2 linked regions of the Homo sapiens genome follow. The protein of the gene in region 2 purifies or fractionates together with the protein of the main gene of each other region. This does not show direct contact. Each region holds a gene or a part of one and is shown on either strand. Other genes may lie near its edges. The genes, in order: HSPBP1 and HMCES.

Region 1 (10,138 bases), on a different chromosome or scaffold from region 2:
GGGCGCGGTGGCAGGCGCCTGTAATCCCAGCTACTTGGGAGGCTGAGGCAGGAGAATCTCTTGAACTCGGAGGGTGGAGGCTGCAGTGAGCCAAGATCGGGCCACTGCACTCCAGCCTGGGCAACAGAGTGAGACTCCCGTCTCAAAAGAAAAAAAAAAGAAAGAAAAAGAAAAAGAAAGAGGAGGATCGCTCTGGAATTAGTCCAGCTGTGAATCCTGGCTGTGAACTTGGTCAGGGGTCAGCCTCCTCTGAGCTCAGCCTCCTCTCTGGAAAAACAACAGCTTTCAAAGCTCTTGTCTACAAATGACAAAATTTCTTGTAGCTAAACAGAAAAGGAATTTATTAAAGGAATTGAGGCAGCCTCCGACACCCCCACCTCCCGCCCCAATCCCACGTCTCTGAGAAAGCTACAGAATCCGCTTGGCGCTTTGCAGTCAGGAATGAAGCCCACACCCAGCCACAGGCCTGCTCCTGAGACACAGTGCAGCCTCCATCAACGGCACCTGGCTCAGACACTCCCGCCAGAATCTCTGCCAGCCCTGTCCAGAAGCCAGGTGTGGCTGCTCCTGCACTAGCCAGAAGGGAACCTGGGCAGGGGCCCCTCCACCGCCAACTCTTGGCCCGACGACCGGCGGGCTCTGATTGGTAGAGGAGCTAGACCACCAGCGGGTTCTGATTGGTGTACAAAACAGATTCCCAGAGAGAGTTCTGATTTGTGGAGCTAATGTCACATGATTACCCTACAGCAAAGGATGCTGGGAAGGGAAATGGCGGCTACCCTAGGGAAAATTTAGATGTCTAACCTGGGAAATTCCTCAAACCTAGAATTCAGGTTTGCCAGGTGGCCGAAAAAAGGACAGATGTCCCACACACTGTTGCTCAGGAAAGACAGGGAAGAGTAAATGACACAATGGCTCTATAGATGATAAAGAGCAACACTTTTATTATTCTTCCAGTGGCTCCCCAAGTCCCTTAAACCCGTGCCCCTCCTCCCGTCCCCCATGCACCCTCCAAAGGAGATGACAAAGGCGGCAGTGAAGGAGGAGAAGGAGGAAGAGAAACACCTTTATTGGAAGAGCTGTGTGGACAAGAGAACGGGGATGAGAGTGAGAGCATGGGAGGTGGGGTCCAAGGAGCTGGTGCCTTTCTCAGCGCCCCTTCCAGGGACTGCACAGAGACGGGCTGGCACACCCTGGGTCCAGGCACCTAGGCCCTGCGATCCCTTGGGAGAGGGCCTTGTAGGTGGGGAGGGAGGCAAGAGGCCTGGGGTTCCCACGGAGAAGGGGGCAAGAAGCCACCTGGTTTCACCGATCCATGCTGTCGTCCGCTGGGCTGGAGAAACAGGTCTGTAGCAGCTTTTCACAGAACTCCAGCTCCTCCTGGATTGGGCAGGGGCAGGGAGCAAGGGGCCTGAGTGCAGAGGCCGGACCCTGCCTCCAGCATTCTTGGCACCCAGAGGTGACTCCTCTTCTCTCCTGGCCACCACCCACTCCCCCCCACCAGAGGTTAGGCTTTTTTAATCACTGCTCAGATCCATGATTCACTGTCTTCACACTGGTGTCTGAACTACTTGAACTAGAACCCGGGGTCCCCCAGACTCGTCTCACTCCATTGGTCTGCCTCATATCAGCACTCTTGGGCTCTTTCTAACTCCCAGATATGGACCACTGCTCAAAACTTTCTGCGGATACAAACCCCAGAAACCATGAAAGAAAGCACTGAGAGGTTAAACTACGTAATATAAAAAATACTCCCATGGCAAAAAAAGAAAAAGAAAACGAGGTTGGAGAAAAATATTTGTGATTCATAGCACAAATGGCTAATATACTTAACTCTTAAAGAGCTTAAAAAAGTCATTCGCAAAAACCATCACCCAATAAATAGATAAGTGGGCAAAGGATGAGAACGAACAGTTCACAAGAAAGAGAAAAGATGCCAAATTTCACTCATGGGAGAAATGTAAACTGGACTGGAGTACTACTTTTCAACAATCAGTTTGAAAAAAGGTCAAATGGTTCATCGAGGCCACTTTGTCCTGACCAAGATTTGGGGAGTTGGGCACCCTCATGACTGGAGTGTCAATGGTTGAACTTCTATGGAGAGCAGCTTGGTGATAGCTAATGAAACGGCCCTTAACCCTTTAACCTTCACCTTTAACATACCTGACCCCAGCCATTTCCCTTCTAGAAATTGTTCTACAGACATATGTAATAACATATACAAAAGGTTATTCTTTCAGCAGTGTTTGTCATAGCGAGAGTGTAGAAACAACCTGCATATCCATGCTACAAAAAAGAGCCCATCCGCACTGTACAGCTGCAAAATGAAAGAGCCACAGGCGAGACATGCAATGCCCACAAAGCAAGGGGCAGAACAGCCATCACAGCACGGCAGGCTTATTTTGCATAACATAGAGAAAAAGGAGAATTCACATGCACCTTTGCTCGTGTGTACCTAATATTTTAAGAAGGACACCTGAGCAACTGGGTAGCCAGAAGGAGGGGCAGGAGAGAGACTTTTCACTGTTTACCCTCCTGCGGGTCTTGTATTTTCAACCATGTGACTACGGAACCTATTCACAAAGCATTAGTAAAATCTGTTACAAATCTAATTTGAATGTTTCCACGGGTGTATACATAAGTCAAAACTTCTCATGTAGTACACTTTTTTTTTTTTTTTTTTTGAGATGGAGTCTCACTCTGTCGCCCAGGCTGGAGTGCAGTGGCGCATCTTGGCTCACTGCAACCTCCGCCTCCCCGGTTCAAGCGATTCTCCTGCCTCAGCCTCCTGGGTAGCTGGGATTACAAGCACCTGCCACTATGCCCAGCTAATTTTTTGTATTTTTAGTAGAGATGGGGTTTTACCATGTTGGCCAGGCTGGTCTCGAACTCCTGACCTCATGATTTGCCTGCCTCGGCCTCCCAAAGTGCTGGGATTACAGGCGTGAGCCACCATGCCTGGCCATGTAGTACACTTTCAATACATACAGACACTTGACAGTGTCTACACAGGAATGAATCTAATAGAATATAACGTCCCAAGGAGGTGGGTGCGTTTGCTAAGCTCGGCTTTGCTGAAGCACCAGCATTGATTCATTCACTTCAACAAATTAATGCATTACTTAATCAGTTAACTATTTGAATTTTAATTAGTTGTGATTTAGCATTTGTTACTTATCTAGTTATCTAATGAGTTATTTATTTGCCCCTTATCTAATTAAATATCTGATGACTTGTTATTTATCACTTGTTATTTACCCAAAATAATTGGTTATTTTTTGCCATTTGTTATTTCTTGTCAATTTAATGAAATAGTTAAATCATTAAGACATTTGAGTGATATTATATTCAATTTACATTTACTTAATGTAAAACAACTGTATTGGGTAATTTAGATAATAATTCAATGATTGGGCAACACTTTAAGAATCTCCAAGCTCCTGTCTCCTTGCTGTCTCTCCTACTCTGACACAGCACGGGACGAATGCTAGGCATGAAATAAACATCTGCTGAATGGAAGATAAGTGAAATGCACGAGAACACGAATGAAAGCCTGAACCAGCGGACCCAGGAGCCCCCAAGGGCAAGGACTGGCTGGCTCTGCCCCTACTAGGGTCCCCACTACCACACTTGGTCTAACCTGGGGAATTCCTCACCCCCCAGGCCCCTCCCCCTCACACCTGGTCCTCCTCACACCCTGTCCCTTCCCCAACTCACCTGGTCCTTCTGGAGCCGCTGTCCCCTCCCCCGGCACACGATCCTCCTCGAACCCCATCCCCTGCCCCTCACACCTAGTCCTCCTTGCACCCCGTCACCTCCCCGTGTACCTGGTCCTCCTGGAGCCCCTGTCCCCTCCCCCTGGCACCTGATCCTCCTCGAACCCCATCCCCTCCCCACACACCTAGTCCTCCTGGAGCCCTTGTCCCCTCCCCCTTGCACCTGGTCCTCCTTGCACCCCGTCCCCTCCCCATGTACCTGGTACTCCTCATGCTGCTGCAGCAGCTGACAGCGGTGGCGGAGGAGCTCCTCCAGGCCCAGTTCCGGCTCCCGACACTCGCGCACACCCTGCGGAAAGTCTGTCACCAGGCTGTGAGGGACATGACAGCGGCCCTTAGGACCTCCCTCTAGAGGCCTCACTGACCCAACCCTATCGCCCGCCCCGTCCCCTGGCTCACTCAGGAGCCTGGCAAGTCGCTGCCCCACAATGGGCCTCCATTTCCCCATCTGCGGAATGGACCTCACGCTGCCCCTGGCCCAGGGTGGGTGCTGAGGGGCTCAGCACAGGGCCTGGTGCGTGTCAACTCTGGTGTGCTGTTGAGAGCTCCAGCATCATCTGATTAGACACTAATCCACTGGTGGGGGCGTGTACAGAAGCCTCTCTCCCTCCTGCAAGGCCTCTGTGCCAGCCCTACTGGTGAGGAAACTGAGGCTCCCTGACTCCTGCTCCTTTCTGGCCCCACACCCTTCCTCTCTACGGGAAGGTCCCAACTCCTGAGTCCCTACGGGCTGATTCCTGAGCCACCCCCACCTTGAGAGGACGGGGCCCCCACCCCAGGCCCCGTCCTCTCAAGGAGCCAAAGTACCTGCACAGGGCTCCAAGCACGTGCTCGTGGAAGGGGCTGTGCTCTGTCCGCACCAGGGCCACCAGCTGCTGGACCATCCCCATGGAGCACAGGGTCCCTGGGGGGAGGGCTGCAGGGGTCAGAGGGGCAGCCCCACCCATCTCCTATGCCCTCCCCGGGATGCCTGTTCCTCCCCTTCTCCCACACCTGCACCCACCCCAGGGCGTCTGCTCCCCACTCCTGCCCTCACTCAAGGGCTGCCACACCTTTGTGTTCAGGGTGGCCCACCAGCAGGTTCTGCAGCAGGAATGCTGATTTGACCTTGAGCTTCTGCACCTGCTGCTGCATGGCCCTCATCAACACAGAGAAGCCGTCCAGGCGGAGGAACTGCAGCAGCCCAGCCTCCTGCTCTCGGACCAGACCTGGGAGAGGGGGAAAGGTCCTGAGCTTGCAGTCACCACCACCACCACTGTCATCACAAGCACCATCACCAACATCATCACAACCACCATCACCAACATCATCATCACCACCATCACCACTATCTTCACCACCATCACAATCATCATCATCACCATTCTCATCCTCACCACCATCACCATCACCACCATCCTCACCACCACCACCATCACTATCACCATCACCACCACCACCATCACCACCACCATCATCACCATGACATCACCAACATCACCATCACTATCACCATCACTATCACCATCACCACCACATCACCATCACCGCCATCATCATCACTACCATTAACAATATAATTATCGTCAATCATCGTCACCATCATCACCACCAACCACTATCATCCCTTGCCATGGGCCTGCATATGCAAGCATTATCTTTTTTTGAAGTATGCTTTTGAGATATAATTCACAATCCACACAGTTCAGCCTTTTAAAGATATTCACAGGGTTGTATAACCATCACCACTAACTCTAGGAAATTTTCATCACCCCCCAAAGGAAACCTATGAGCAGTCATTCCCAATTTCCCTTCCCTCTGGCCCCTGCAACCACAGATATACTTTCTTCCTTTATGGATTTACCTGTCCCAGACATTTAATATAAATGTGTCCATAAAATACGTGACCTTTTGTGTCTGACTGCTTTCACTCAGCATGATGTTTTCCAGGTTCATTCATGTCGTAAGTGGTATCAGCACTTCATTCTTTTTCATGGCTGAATAACATTCCATTGTATGGATATACCATATTTTATCCATTCCTCCATTGATGGAAGCATCATCTTTTTTAATTTTTTTATTTTATTTATTTACTTATTTATTTCATTTTGAGATGGACTCTCGTTCTGTTGCCCAGGCTGGAGTGTGCAGTGGAGCAATCTTGGCTCACTGTAACCTCCGCTCGCAGGTTCAAACTATTCTTCAGCCTCAGCCCCCCAAGTAGCTGGGATTATAGTAACCTGCCACCACACCCGGCTAATTTTTGTATATATAGTAGAGACAGGGTTTCACCATGTTGGCCAGGTTGGTCTCAAGCTCCTGACCTAAAGTGATCCACCTGCCTGGGCCTCCCAAAGTGCTGGGATTACAGGCATGAGCCATTGCGCCCGGCTGTGTCATCTCTCTCTTTTTTTTTTTTTTGAGACAGAGTCTTGCTCTATCATCCAGGCTAGAGTGCAGTGGCACCATTTTGGCTCACTGCAACCTCTGCTTCCCAGGCTCAAGCTATTCTCCTGCCTCAGACTCCCGAGTAGCTGGGATTACAGGTATGCACCACTACACCCAGCTAATTTTTGTATTTTGAGTAGAGACAGGGTTTTGCCATGTTGGCCAGGCTGGTATTGAACTCCAGACCTCATAATCCACCTGCCTCAGCCTCCCAAGGTGCTGGGATTACAGGCGTGAGCCACCGTCCCCAGTCCGCAACATCTTTTAATCCTCACAATTATCCTGGAAGTGTGTGCTTTCAGAATTCTATTTTACAGATGAGGAAACTGAGGCCTAAAGAGCCAGGCTACACAGCATGCATGACCTTTATCCAGAGGGCAATGAGAACTCTGGAAGGACTCCCAGCAGGATGAGAACTGACCTTTGGAGTGCACCTCCAGTAAGGTGCCCCCTCCTGGGTAGGCTCTAGGCCTGTGCTGGCCAAGAAGGACAGAAGCTGCTAGTAGCTTGTGGCCACTAAACACCTGATATGTGGCCAGTGCAACTAAGGAAAAGAGTTGTTCATTTCATTTAAGTTCCATTCATTTAAACTTAAGGTGAAAAACTGAAGCAGTGTAAAATATTTTCCATTAAACACAACGTTGGCTGGGCGCGGTGGCTCATGCCTGTAATCCCAGCACTTTGGGAGGCCGAGGTGGGCAGATCACTTGAGGTCAGGAGTTCGAGACCAGCCTGACCAACATGGTGAAACCCCGTCTCTACTAAAAATACAAAATTAGCTGGGCGTGGTGGCGTGCGTCTGTAATCCCAGCTACTAGGGAGGCTGAGGCAGGAGAATCATTTGAACCCGGGAGGTGGAGGTTGCAGTGAGCCGAGATTGCGCCATTACACTCCAGCCTGAGCAAAAAGAGCGAAACTCCATCTCACACACACACAAAAAGAAAACCAAAAAAAGAAAAACACACACAACGTTGTTGCTCTGGCGCACTCCACACTACCCCTGAAAACTCAGCATGTTGCGATGTGCTTCATTTGTAAAATGCACACACTAGGTTTTGAAGACTTAGCATGACAAAAAATACAGTGTCTCATTAATAGTCCATATTAATTACACATTGAAATTATAATAGTTTGGACATATTGGGTTACATATTTATTTATTTTAGTTTATTTTATTTCATTTTTGAGACAGAGTCTCGCTCTGTCGCCCAGGCTGGAGTGCAGTGGCAGTTGGCTCACTGCGACATACGTCTCTCGGGTTCAAGCAATTTTTATGCCTCAACCTACCGAGTAGCCGAGATTACAGGCATGCCCCACCATGCCTGGCTAATTTTTTGGTATTTTTAGTAGAGACAGGGTGTCACCATGTTGGCCAGGCTGGTCTTGAGCTCCTGGCTTCAAGTGATCCACCTGTCTCGGCCTCCCAAAATGTTGAGATTATAGGCATGAGTCACCACGCCCAGCCAGATGTTATTTAATTAAAGAAAGAAAAAAGAACAGGCATGCATGGACTGGAAAACACAAAGACTCCTCTCATTCAATCTGTAAGCAAGGCCTGTCAGCTCTACCTTCAAAATGTACCCAGGAGAGACCTGTCCCCTTTACGCCAGGGTTTCTCCACCTGGGCACGGTTGGTATCTGGGGCCAGATCATTCTGGGTTGGGAGGCCCGTCCTGTGCATTGCAGGATGTTGAGCAGCATCCCTGGCCTCTACCCAGTAGATGCCAATAGTCCCTCTCTCCCAGCTGCGACAACTAAAAATGTCTCCAGACATTTGTCTAAATGTCCTGTGGAGGACACGATTGTCCCTGTTTGAGAACCACTGCTCCCTACCACAACCTTGATCTCTTGCCTAGGTTATCACCATAACCCCCCAGCTCACCGCCCACCTTCCACCCACCCTCGCCGCATTCACCCTCTTCTCTGTGCAGCAGTTGGGGGCAGGGATCACAGTATGGCTGCCGTCATTTTTGGAAAGAAAGCCAAAGTCATCACTGCAGCCCACACATCTCCCTTAAAAAAGTTACGCTTATTCAGCGCTAAAAAGAAATGAGCTATCAAGCCAAGAAAAGACATGGAAGAACCTTAAAAGCAGATTACTAAGCCAAAGAAGCCAGTCGGAAAAGGCTGCAGATTGCATGGTTCCAAGCATATGACATTCTGGAAAAGGCAAAACTATGGAGACAGTAAAAAGCTCAGGGGTGGGATGACTAGCGGGAGCACAGAGGATTTGTAGGGCAGCGAGATTCCTCTGTAGAATACTACAGTATGGATCCATGTCATGATACAGTTGTCCAAACCCATAGTACATACAGCATCAAGAGTGCGCCCCAGTGTCAACTATGGACTCTGGGTGACAATGAGGTGTCCATGTAGGTTCATCGATTGTAATAAATGTGCCACTCTGGTAGACTGTAACAAGGAACCACTTTGGAGTGGCTCCACAGAGGGCGAGCGAGTCCATCCCCTCCTGTCCTGGGAAGGGCAGTGGCACCACCGCCTCGGGCAGCAGGAGCTGAGGGGACGTACCCTGCAAATGGCTCCCAGCACGGAACTCCAGTAATGGTACTGGACAGCCACACAATGGCATACCCTGCAGCCACCAAAAAAAAGGACAGATGCCACTGAATGGTATACTTTAACATTTTCATGTGAATTTTACCCCCGAGCAAAAAAAAGAATGGCATCCAAGCTCCCAGAGCTCTTGCCCTGCATCGTGCACAACTTTCGCTGGGGAAGCCGACCACCACGTGGTGAGGCCGCTCACGCAGCCCGAGCTTCCTGCCAACTGCCAGCAAAACTCTGCTAGCCCCGGGGCGAGCCATGGTGGAAGCCCATCTCTAGCACCCCTTCCTCAGAGGGGGATTGTGAGGGATCAATGAGGTGCAGCGCACAGGGCTTAGTGCAATGAGACCTTCAGGGAACGAGGCCCGGCTGACGGCTGACCACAACCTCATGCAACCTCATGCAACCTCATGAAGACGCAAAGCCAGAAGCCGCCCTCCTCAGCAGGGGCCACTGCTGCATTCCTCACCCGCAGGAAGGGGAAAGATAAGCTACTGTTGCTTAAGAAAAAAGGACAGAGGCAGGTCAAGGTGCGCCACAGTCAGGATGGCCTGTGCCAGCCGTGCACATCTGAGGAAACGAGATTAATCCGTGTGTCTGTGTGCACACATACCACACACGACACACTCCACATAAGCACACACCACACACCCCGTATACACACACCACATCCACACATCCCACACACGCCATGCACATCCACACACCACACATACGCACCACACATACACACCTCATATGCACCCCACATACCCCACACATATACATACATCCCCCCAGCACACACATCCCACACACATACACATGCAACACACACACCACACACACCTCCACATATATACCACACACCACACAACCCATGTACACGCTACACTAACACACGACACGCCAAACACCCCACATACACACCATACACACCCTACACACGCGCCACACACCCACTACACACACACATCACACACACACCACACACACCCACATTTGTTCTTACAGATTTATTAAAATCTCTGGAAGCAGAAACAGGTATAACAGTGGTTTTCTCTGGAATGGGGACCAGGTTTGGGGACAGGGACCATTTGCTATGTACTCTTTTGTACCTGGTGAACGATGTGACTGTCTCACAGATTTTTAAAAATATGTAATGACTTTTTTTTTTTTTAGACAGGGTCTCACTCTGTCACCCAGGCTGGAGTGCAGTGGCACGATCTCAGCTGACTGCAGCCTCTGCCTCCCAGGCTCAGATGATCCTCCCTCCTCAGCCTCCCAGGTAGGTGGGACCAGGTGTGAACCACCAAGATGACCTAAAGACTTCTTTTTTAATGCAAGCTATTAGAAGAAAACTCTGCCAGCCCCTCTCTACCCTGCTCTGG
Region 2 (10,206 bases):
TATAATCCTGGCACTCTGGTAGGCCAAGTGGGGAGGATCCCTTGAGCTCAAGGTTGATTTTTCTTTTTTGAGACAGAGTTTCGCTCTTGTTGCCCAGGCTGGAGTGCAATGGCGCGATCTTGGCTCACTGCAACCTCCGCCTCCCACGTTCAAGCGATTCTCCTGCCTCAGCCTCCCAGGTAGCTGGGATTACAGGCATGCACCACCACACCCGACTAATTTTGTATTTTTAGTAGAGACAGGGTTTCACCATGTTGGTCAGGCTGGTCTACAACTCCCGACTGCAAGCGATCCACCTGCCTCAGCCTCCCAAAGTAATGAGATTACAGGTGTGAGCCTCTGCACCTGGCCTGAGCTCAAGAGTCTTGAGACCAGTTTGAGCAACACAGTGAGAACTTCCCCCTCAAAATGTCAAAAGGAAAAGCCTGTGATCCCAGCTGCTGGGGAGGTTGAGGCAGCAGGATCGCTTGAGCCTGGGAGGTCAAGGTTGTAGTGAGCCATGATTGCGCCACTGCACTCCAGCCTGGGCAACACAGCAAGTCCCTGTCTCCAAAAAAAAAAAAAAGTCTTCCAAGCAGAAGGACCCCCAGCTCAGTGCATAAATGAGAATGAGACAACATTACGCAATGGTCAACTAAATGATCTTTCATCAGAAATTTGCAAGACAACAATACTGAAAAAATCTGTGGTTCTCAGTACGGGACAATTCTGACACACCCCTCCCCACCATCCAGAGACTTCTGGCAGTATCTGGAGATACCTTTGGTTGCTCTGATCTGGGGGATGCTATTGTGGAGGATGCTACTGACATCTAGCTGGTAGAGGATGTTGCTAAACGCTCTACAACGCCCAGAATAGCTCCCTATGACAAAAAATTATCCTGGCCAAAACTGTCAACAGTGTCAAGGTTGAGAATTCTGCTCTCACAAATTCCACTGATCAGCGCTGAGAGTGTACCCTTGACAACTGTAAACCAAATCCAAATGTGAGAATGACGAATAGAAAGTAGTTGAAAAGCCAAAATACTAAGACCATTGCTCAATATTAGTCATCTTTCCTCTACCCTTTTGGACTTCTGAACAGAACACCTGGTAGCACTGGGGTGGATAAATGAAACAGGAAGTAATTTGCAAATCTGTGGTTTCAAATGAAAATGTTGCTATCTATATACATATGCAGGCTGTTAATGATTTGAATGAACTGCTAAAATGGTTCTAATTTTGCTTTATAATTTATAGGTCTGAGAAAAATGAGATATCAAATATTATCAAAATTAAGAAACCATAGCAATCTTAATAAAACTTGTTAGAGATGTGAAATCAAATACTATATCAGCAAATTCATACCACTGGCCCAAATGAGGGCTGTATTTGCTAGTGGCTCCACCTTCCCCATTCCTGGTTCCAGGATGCATCCACTGGAGTGGGGACGGTGGTCTGGATCTCAGTTCTAGTTCTGTCCCTCACTGATTAGGTAACCTAGGACAAGTCATAATCTATGTATACTTCTATCTTTACATCTGTTAGACAAATTTTTCTTCCAGCTAACTTTCTATAATTCTAAGGAGGTCATATAAATGACTAAGGCTTTTTTTTTTTTTTTTTGTTAAAAACAGGGTCTCATTTGCTCAGGCTGGTGTCCTGAAATCCTGGCCTGAAGCAATTCTCTGGCCTCAGCCTCCCCCAAAGTGCTAGAATTACAGGCGTGAGCCACCAGGCCTGGCCAGGCTCATACACTTAATCCTGCTCTCTATTCTCACTCTAAGTTATGCTTTCCTTTGAAATATGTTTTATGCTCTCTTTTCCCCTTCAAGGTTCTCCAGAATATTTTATTTTGATTCCCCTCTCATTTAAAACAAAAAGTTTCAATAGGGAAGTATGCATCCTCTAAAAATGACACAAAAATAACTATGTCATATAAATGGCTTCATTCAACCAAGAACATTATTTGATTTTTTTTTTTTTTTTTTTTTTGAGACTGAGTCTTGCTCTGTCACCCAGGCTGGAGTGCAGTGGCACATTCTCGACTCACTGCAACCTCCACATTTTTTTTTTTTATAGTACAGACAGAGTTTCATCATGTTGGCCAGACTGATCTCAAACTCGTGACCTCAAGAGATCCCACTGCCCCGCCTCAGCCTCCCAAAGTGCTGAGATTACAGGCGTGAGCCACCGTGCCCAGCCATTATTTGTTATCTTTATTTCTTTTTGAGATGGAGTCTCACTCTGTTGCCCAGGCCAGAGTACAGTGGCACAATCTTGGCTCACCCCAACCTTCGCCTCCCGGGTTCAAGCGATTCTCCTGCCTCAGCCTCCCAAGTAGCTGAGATTACAGGCGCCCGCCATCACACCCAGCTAATTTTTGTATTTGCAGTAGAGACGGGGTTTCACCATGTTGGCCAGGCTGGTCTCGAACTCCTGACCTCAGGTGGTCCAGCCGTCTTGGCCTCCCAAAGTGCTAGGATTACAGGTGTGAGCCACCATGCCCAGCCTGTTATCTTTATTTCAAAATGATGTGATTCCCTATAATGCAGAAATGAGTCCTTTTTGACTATCATATTATCACAAAAGTTTAAAGAGTATGTACCAGAGGTATAATCAACTTTATAAAGTGATTTCAGCATTATGAATCAAATACAGTCAAAATTCAGGAAGGAAACAATCACAATTTTTTTTTTTTGAGATGGAGTCTCGCTCTGCCGCCAGGCTGGAGTGCAGTGGTGCAATCTCAGCTCACTGCAACCTCCACCTCCCAGGTTCAAGTGATTCTCCTGCCTCAGCCTCCCAAGTAACTGGGACTACAGGTGCGTGCCACCATACTCAGCTAATTTTTGTATTTTTAGTAGAGATAGGGTTTCACCATGTTGGCCAGGATGGTCTCGATCTCTTGACCTCGTGATCCGCCCGCCTCCACCTCCCAAAGTGCTAGGATTACAGGCGTGGGCCACCGTGCCCAGCCAACAATCACGATTTTTAAAAACATGTCAAGGTCATTTAAAATATTTAAGACATGGAGAAACTATTACTTTCTAGAACGAAGCATTTTTATTACACACACATACAAAGACACACACACTTTCAGGAGATAAGGCAAAAAACTAAAATATGAATGTAAGTGACTGGTAATTCCAACACTACAGGGATAAATACTATAAACACAATGAATGCAATTAAACTTCAGATAACCAAACCAAATACGTGTTTCTAGCCTTAGTAAAAGACAAACACAAAAAGATTGAAAACACAAGCAGAAAGAATAAAACTTTTCAATGCTCAAGAAACATCAGAAGTGTTTTAAATTAACTGATCTTAAGCCTGTCCTAGGCCTAGAGAAGTCTGATTAAGCTGGCCTGGTAAAGGGCATAGAAATATTCTTAAATTTTTTATTTTTTTAAATTTTTTCTTTAGGCAGGGTCTTGATCTGTCACCCAGGTGGGAGTGCAGTGGTACAACCATGGCTCATGAAGCCTCGACCTCCCCAGCTCAAGTGATCTTCCCACCTCATTTTTTTATTTTTTGTAGAGATGGGGTCTCCCTATGTTGCCCAGGCTGGTCTCCAACTCCTAGGCTCAAGTGATCCTCCCACCTCGGCTTCCCAAAGTGCTGGGGTTACAGGCATGAGCCATGGCACCTGGCCTTAAATTTTTTTATTATATTTTTAAGATACTCCAATGACCCTGATGATCAGTGAAAGCTGCTATTTTAAAACACAAAGCTCATATAAATTTGGCATATATTAAGGCTAGTATGCCATGTATAGCAAAGGCATTTAAATTGAGCCTGAAAAATACGTCTTTATCAGTGTTAGAAGCCACTGATAAAACTTCTTTCATGAGGCCAAGAGAGGTTCTCAACTGGAAGTCAGAATATATCAGTAAAGGCTGGTTTTTAATGTCATCCCAAGAGGCTGAGCACACACCAAACCAAATAGGAGATGACCATCACGAGGCTGGGCGAGGGGCTAGCATAGTGCAATGCTGGTTACCTTCTCAAAGTGCAGTCGAGACAGAAGCACTGGGCTGTTGGATTGAGGACTCTTGTTGTAAGAGGGGCAGTACTTATCAGGGTCCCTCCACTCCGGGAGCCGCTGCTGGCCCCGCCGATCCTGGTAGGCGCAAGCTCTCGTGAGAACATCTCTAGGTAAGTGACAGGATGTTCGCCCACACATTCTTCAACACCGCCCCTCGCAACCTTTAAATTACAAAACGTAAGGAAAAGGCTTACGTATCTCAAATATTAGGTCTTATTCCTTGAGTCCCCGCCTTCTCTTTCCGTTCCCACAGGGCCGTGCCCCTCCGTGACCACCGTCTAAAGTCTTCCCCAAAAAGTCCCACAAAGACAAGGATGTGCCCGTTTGCTTCGCTCCCTGAGCCCACTGCCCAGCTCCGTGCAGGGCACTGAGGCAAGTCCCGAGAGGAGCTCTGCAAATGCCTGCCTGAGCGCAGGAAGAGCCGCAGCGGAGGGGGCTTCACAGTCCAGCGAAGCAGGGCAAGCGCAGCTAGCTGGGGTCGCCTCCTCCGGGTGACTTGGTGCCCCCAACTCCCCGTCCTTCCCCCCAGTCCCCGCTGGGGTCAGCGACCCACGCCGGCCAGCAACCGGTCACCTCGAGGGCGGCCACTGGACGGCCCGGGGCCGGGGTGCAGAATCCCCGCCTCCCGCCCGCTAGTCCGCAGCGTCCCCGGGCCCGACCTGCGAACCTGTGGGCCGCGGATCCCGCTCCGGACTCTGCTCCCCGGAGCGGGGGCCGGTGCTCGGGGAGCAGGTGGCCCCCAGCCACCGGCCGCGATCCCTCGCCCCTCCCCGCGTCGCCTCCGCTCCGCTCCGGCCCTCAGACTCCGCCGCCCCGCGTCGCCTCACTTCGGCCCAGGCCGCCCTCTCCGCGTCGCCTCGCGTCCGCTCGGGCCTCTGCTCCCCTCTGTCAGCTCGCGTCGCTTCCTTTCCCCTCCCCTCCCCTCGCCATACCCCGACCGCCCGCGTCGCCTCCCCTCCCCTCACCTCGCCCCGGCAGCGCGCGTCACCTCCCTCGACTCTCCTCACCCCCGCTCCGCTCCGCTTTGGCCACCCGCGTCACCGCCCCTCACGTCAGCCCCGCCTCAGCCCGCGCTCCCGGCGCCAGGCCCCGCCCCCAAGGGCCCTTGGTTCCCGCGGTGCCCTCGGGCCCCGGAGGCGGCGTCTTCTCCCCTCCGGTTTGGGATGAATTTTCTCCCGTTTCCCCAGGAGACAGTGACTGCCTTGGGAGACATATCGATCCCAAGCTTCTCGGGACTCCACTTTCCTCCATATTGGCCGTTCCCTGGCGGGGTTAACCTTCCTCCCCGCCCCCAGCGTGTTTCAGGGCTGGCAGGGAAGGTTCCCGCCGCGCTGAGTCTAGGGCACAGGGTCATGGAAGGCGGGAAACCAGGAAACTCCACTCCTTACTTCACAGTCCTGCCAGCTGCCTCACAGTGCGAGGCAAAAATGGAGGAACACTGAAGAAATGAAAGTCAGAAGAACTTCCAGGAATCGCGCACTTCGCCCTCAAACATTGGTGGGCACTAGAATAAGCCTTTCCTGCCCCAGCCCCTCAGCTGAATCTCTAAGGGTGAGGCCCAGATTTTTAAAACAGCCCTTTCGGGTGTACTTTGGCCTCAAAGTTGGTAAAATAGCCTGGCTTGAGTTTAAAAGCCTGCTCCCCTTGGGACCTAAACCGGAGATTCTTCATCTGCAACCAACAGAGAATGCTCTAGAGGGCTGTTCGCCTATGCTGATTCGCTGAACTGAACAGGGAGCAGAAACCCCAGGGCACACTCCATGTAAGACCAGATGCTGGAACGATCAGACACAGGACCCAAGCCCTTTGGAGCCTCCATTTATCGACTATCAAAGGAGGATGCGTTGTGAAGAAGCACGAACGGGAGGGAGTGTGAACTCTGCCTGTTAGCTGATTCACTCAACCACCCTCTACCGCTCCCACCCCTGGGCTTGGTGCTGGGACAGCGATGACGGGGAGAGGGTCCTGCCTCACAGGACTACAACAGCCAAAGGGCTGTGGGTGCAAGGGGGACAGGGCAGGTGTTCTGCCTCTTTAGGGGAGGCCTTGAAGGGGAAGGTGGAGCCCTGAAGCATGAGTCTGCAGAAGTAGCAATCATTCAATAAATACATGCTGATTTATTACAGGGATAAGATGGTTTCTTGGGGGATAGATTCAAGAGGAGTTGAGAATGTTTTATTCATTTACAATGTCCCTTTCCTGGAAGGGTGGACAGCAAGATTTAGGACAAGCTAAAATCATCCCCTATTTAAAAAAAAAAAAAAAAAAAGTCACCAGCAAGTAGTCCCGGGTGGGAGGTGGGAGCAGAATAAAAAAAAATCTGCAATGATTCCTAATTGTTTTTCAATACAGAAGCTTGGGAAGGGGTTTCTGCCAGTTTCATGAGGAAGGCACAACTTCCAGGTAGTGTTGGGGAAGGGTATGAGGTCCTATGCAGGCTGGCCTCTTATCCCACAGATGCCAAGATGATGTCTACTGGCAGCTCCTCCAAACTTCTGGCTGTCACCTGCATTGTCACTGTGTCCAAAAGCAGCAGCCGGGAGCGCACCAGGATGTCATGACCACCCCGGAACACACCTAGAAGGGAAGAGAGAAGTACAGATATATACAGCAGAAGGGACTGTACAGGGCAGGCTAAGGATGGCATTTGCAGCAACCCATGAAGGCAGCTCTGGTGTAGTGAAACGGGCAGGAGAGCTGGGCTGAAATCCCTGAGTGAGGGATTTCACTGTGAAAGTCACTGTCTCTCAGCCAGGCGCGGTGGCTCACGCTTGTAATTCCAGCACTTTGGGAGGCTGAGGTGGGCAGATCATGAGGTCAGGAATTCGAGACCAGCCTGGCCAACACAGTGAAACCCCATCTCTACTAAAAATACGAAAATTAGCTGGGCATGGTGGTGGACGCCTGTAATCCCAGCTACTCGGGAGGCTGAAGCAGGAGAATCGCTTGAACCCGGGAGGCGGAGGTTGCAGCGAGCAGAGATTGTGCCACTGCATGCCAGCCTGGGTGACAGAGCTAGACTCCGTCTCAAAAAAAAAAAAAAAAAAGAAAGTCACTGTCTCTCAGGACTTCAGTATCCTCAACTACAAAGTGGCAGGGATGATAATACCATATTTCAGGCTTCTGCTAAGTTCAAATGAACTGATGGACATAAAAGGCTTATATCTCATGTCACAGAGGCTCTTGCACGTTGACTGAATCTGAGAGCACAAATGAAGGGGACAGCCCCACCACGAGAAAACCACAGGGCAGGTGTCTGCAAGACCCAGGGGACTAGGTTGTTTCAATGTGGCTACAAACTGTCAGCTGTAGGCAGGGTACTGAAGCAGAGCCTCCTTTCAACCCTGTTTATAAACACTCAGCCAAAAAAAATCATCCCATTTCCTTTTGTTAACTGTTTTAGGTATGATAATTGTATTGTCCTTTAAAAAAGGGAAGGGGTCATTCTCTCTTAGAGAAACATACAGATACAGGATTTACATATAAAATGCTATTTCTGGAGTTTGCTAGTAAATAATCTGGGAAGGAGAATGAGTGTGGGTACACTCAGCCAACCCTGTAGAAAATAAGACAAAGGATATGAAGACAATGATCAGAAAAGGAAATACAAATGCCTCAACATTTAAGAAGATACTTAACTTCATTGAAAATACAAAAACTACACTAAGATATCATTGTCCACACAGACTGGAAAAGATCATAAAGTGTGGTAACATATTATGTTGTCCACAGTGTAGGAAGAAAGGTATACAATTCTATGGAAGGCAACTTGGAGTTATTTATCAAGATGAGAAACACAAATCACTTTGAACTGGTGATGCCTTGGAAAATTTATCCTACAGATATTCTCAGTGTACACATGCAAAGTAAACTGTGTGTGTGTGTGTGTGTGTGTGTGTACACGATTATTTACTGTAACATCTGTAATAGCAAGAGATTGAAATCAAACTAAATGTTCATCAGTAGTGGCTGTTCCATAGAATATGTGGTGCATCCACACAATGGAATACTAAGCAACTATAAAAAAAATGAGGATTCAGTTTGGGATGAAAAAAGTTCTGGAGATGGATGGTGGTCATAGTTTTACAATAGTGTGAATGTACTTAATGCCGCTGAACCATACACTTGAAAATGGTCGAAATGGTGAATTTTATGTATATTTTACCACAATTAAAAGAAAAAGAATGAGGAAGCTCTACATATTGACGGGGAAGATCTCTAAGATGCAATGTAAAGTGAAAAGCAAATCGGAGGACAATATATATACCATTTGTACATAAACATTTGAGTTAAAAAAAGGAAATGCGTTCCTATTAGCTTTTATAGCCATAAAATAACCGCAAGGTTATACAAGTATTGTTTGTAATAGTAACACTGGTCGCTTCTCGGAAGGGAATCTGAATGGCTGGCAGCCAAGGTAGGGAGGAAACATTTCGCTGCAGATTATTTTATACTTTGTGAATTTTAAATGCTGTGAATTTTGACTCCCCATATTTACAGTGGAGTCCTTAGCCCAGGATCCAGTGGCATCCAGGCTGTAAGCTATCCAGGCCCTCCCCATCTAGAAATGCCACTTACCAGCCAGGAGCAACGTGTGGGTGTTCTTGTTATCCGGCACTTTGTCTGACCTCTCACAAGGGTGCATTCCCAAGAACTTCACAATATTACCCACAGCCTCTGTAATGAGAAATCCCAATATTGTTAAGCCATCTTATCTGCCCTTTGTGCCACCACCACTCCCCCATGTTCTGAAGGGCTTTTAATGAAGTGGCATTTGACATATGTGCTCCAGACATGGCCCTGGATCCTTGGAGAGAAAAGGGATGAGCACTTCAATAGTAGCCAAAGATCTTGAACAGTAATTAGGCCAGAGATGGCATTCCCAGGATTTTACCTTCAAGTGTCTTGATGGTAGACAAGGTGAACGTTTCCTCCTTCTCAAATTCATCCCCTACCTCATCCCAGGCTGCTTCGAAGTTCAGTTTCATGACCTTTTGAATGTGATCAGCTACAGTAACTTCCAGATCTTCCAGCTGGAGAGATGGAGGTAGAAATCAGGCACCCATCTACACACCTACGGGCCTCTGCTCTGAACTCATCCACACATCCCTTCCTGCAACTCTTTCCACAGGTGCTTGCTCGGCACTGAGGACTGTGCTAGACTCTGGGGACATAGAGCAACTTGACCAGGTACCTATCCTTGAGGTGCCCAAAGGCAAATGGTATCCCTTCAACAGAAAACGCCCTAATCCCAAGTACCAATCTACTAATTCAGCCTAGAGCCGCCTGCTGTGAGATCACATCTCTTCTAAGCCTGCCTAGTGTCAGTGCTTCCAGGACCTGGCATGCAGGGAATTACATAGCATTCTCAGAGGTCTGCTTCCTATGCCTGTCCCTCCTAGGGGATGATGAGCTCTTCAGGACCAGCAGCTGTTTCTAGTTCAGCAGAAACTAGCAGAAACCTCCTACCCCAGCTGTGTCCTCTGGATTTGACAGATCCTGAATCTCTATCTCCATTTCAGCTGTGTCTTCCCTGAACTTGACACATAATACTCCCACTGAGTCTACATGAAGGTTCCCCATTCATTCTCCCATCAGATTTTCACTGAGGCCCTACTCCTGTGGATGTTTACAGTGTATATAAATACAACTTAGACCCAGCTCTCTCTCTCTTTTTTTTTTTTCTTCATCTCTGGATGGGCTCAAACAGACCCAGCTCTCTCAAGGAGCTCACTTGGTCTTAGAGCAGCTCCTGCCTCGGGGTCATTTCCAGCTCAAGGAAGGTCCATCCATCCTCAACTGTGACTCTAGGATGACACAATGGCGAATGTCAGTTGTATTCCACTGTGACTGTCCCTCTAGTCAGGAGGAGTTCTAACAGTCCCCATCCACAGGCTGAGCATAATGGTCTGCACTCAGATGGCCCTGAGCCACTGCCCCAAAGTCAGACCTCAGAAGGATCCTGTACTTAGTTCCACCGAGCTAAGATAGGAGAATTTAGAAGGGCTATTCCAGTGCATGAAAGGACTGCCCAGCACAGCAAACAGGTCAAATTTATCCAGAAAGCATTTGACAAGAGGAATCAAAATGTCTTAAAATCATGCTTACCCTTTGACCCAACTATTCTCCTTCTAGGAATCTATCCTAAAGAAATAATCTAAAATGCAGATAAAAATT

What was found.
Region 1: the proteins of HMCES (region 2) and HSPBP1 purify together in Homo sapiens (affinity purification with mass spectrometry; 2 studies listed by BioGRID and IntAct, with this or other methods). This does not show direct contact.

The regions. Positions count from the first base shown.
Region 1 is NC_000019.10:55,261,303-55,271,440, forward strand, and holds the end of HSPBP1 (hsp70-binding protein 1), read right to left. Parts: intron 4,985-10,138; coding exon 4,829-4,984; intron 4,681-4,828; coding exon 4,584-4,680; intron 4,088-4,583; coding exon 3,976-4,087; intron 1,381-3,975; coding exon 1,306-1,380; coding exon of another isoform or gene 1,068-1,305; 3' UTR 921-1,067; downstream 1-920. UniProt on the Homo sapiens protein: Inhibits HSPA1A chaperone activity by changing the conformation of the ATP-binding domain of HSPA1A and interfering with ATP binding. Interferes with ubiquitination mediated by STUB1 and inhibits chaperone-assisted degradation of immature CFTR.
Region 2 is NC_000003.12:129,273,694-129,283,899, reverse strand, and holds the start of HMCES (abasic site processing protein HMCES), read right to left. Parts: upstream 5,031-10,206; 5' UTR 4,995-5,030; intron 4,927-4,994; exon of another isoform or gene 4,689-4,926; intron 4,191-4,688; 5' UTR 4,168-4,190; coding exon 3,985-4,167; intron 1-3,984. Other genes in the region: COPG1 (coatomer subunit gamma-1), read right to left, coding at 6,476-6,606, 8,608-8,706, 8,924-9,062.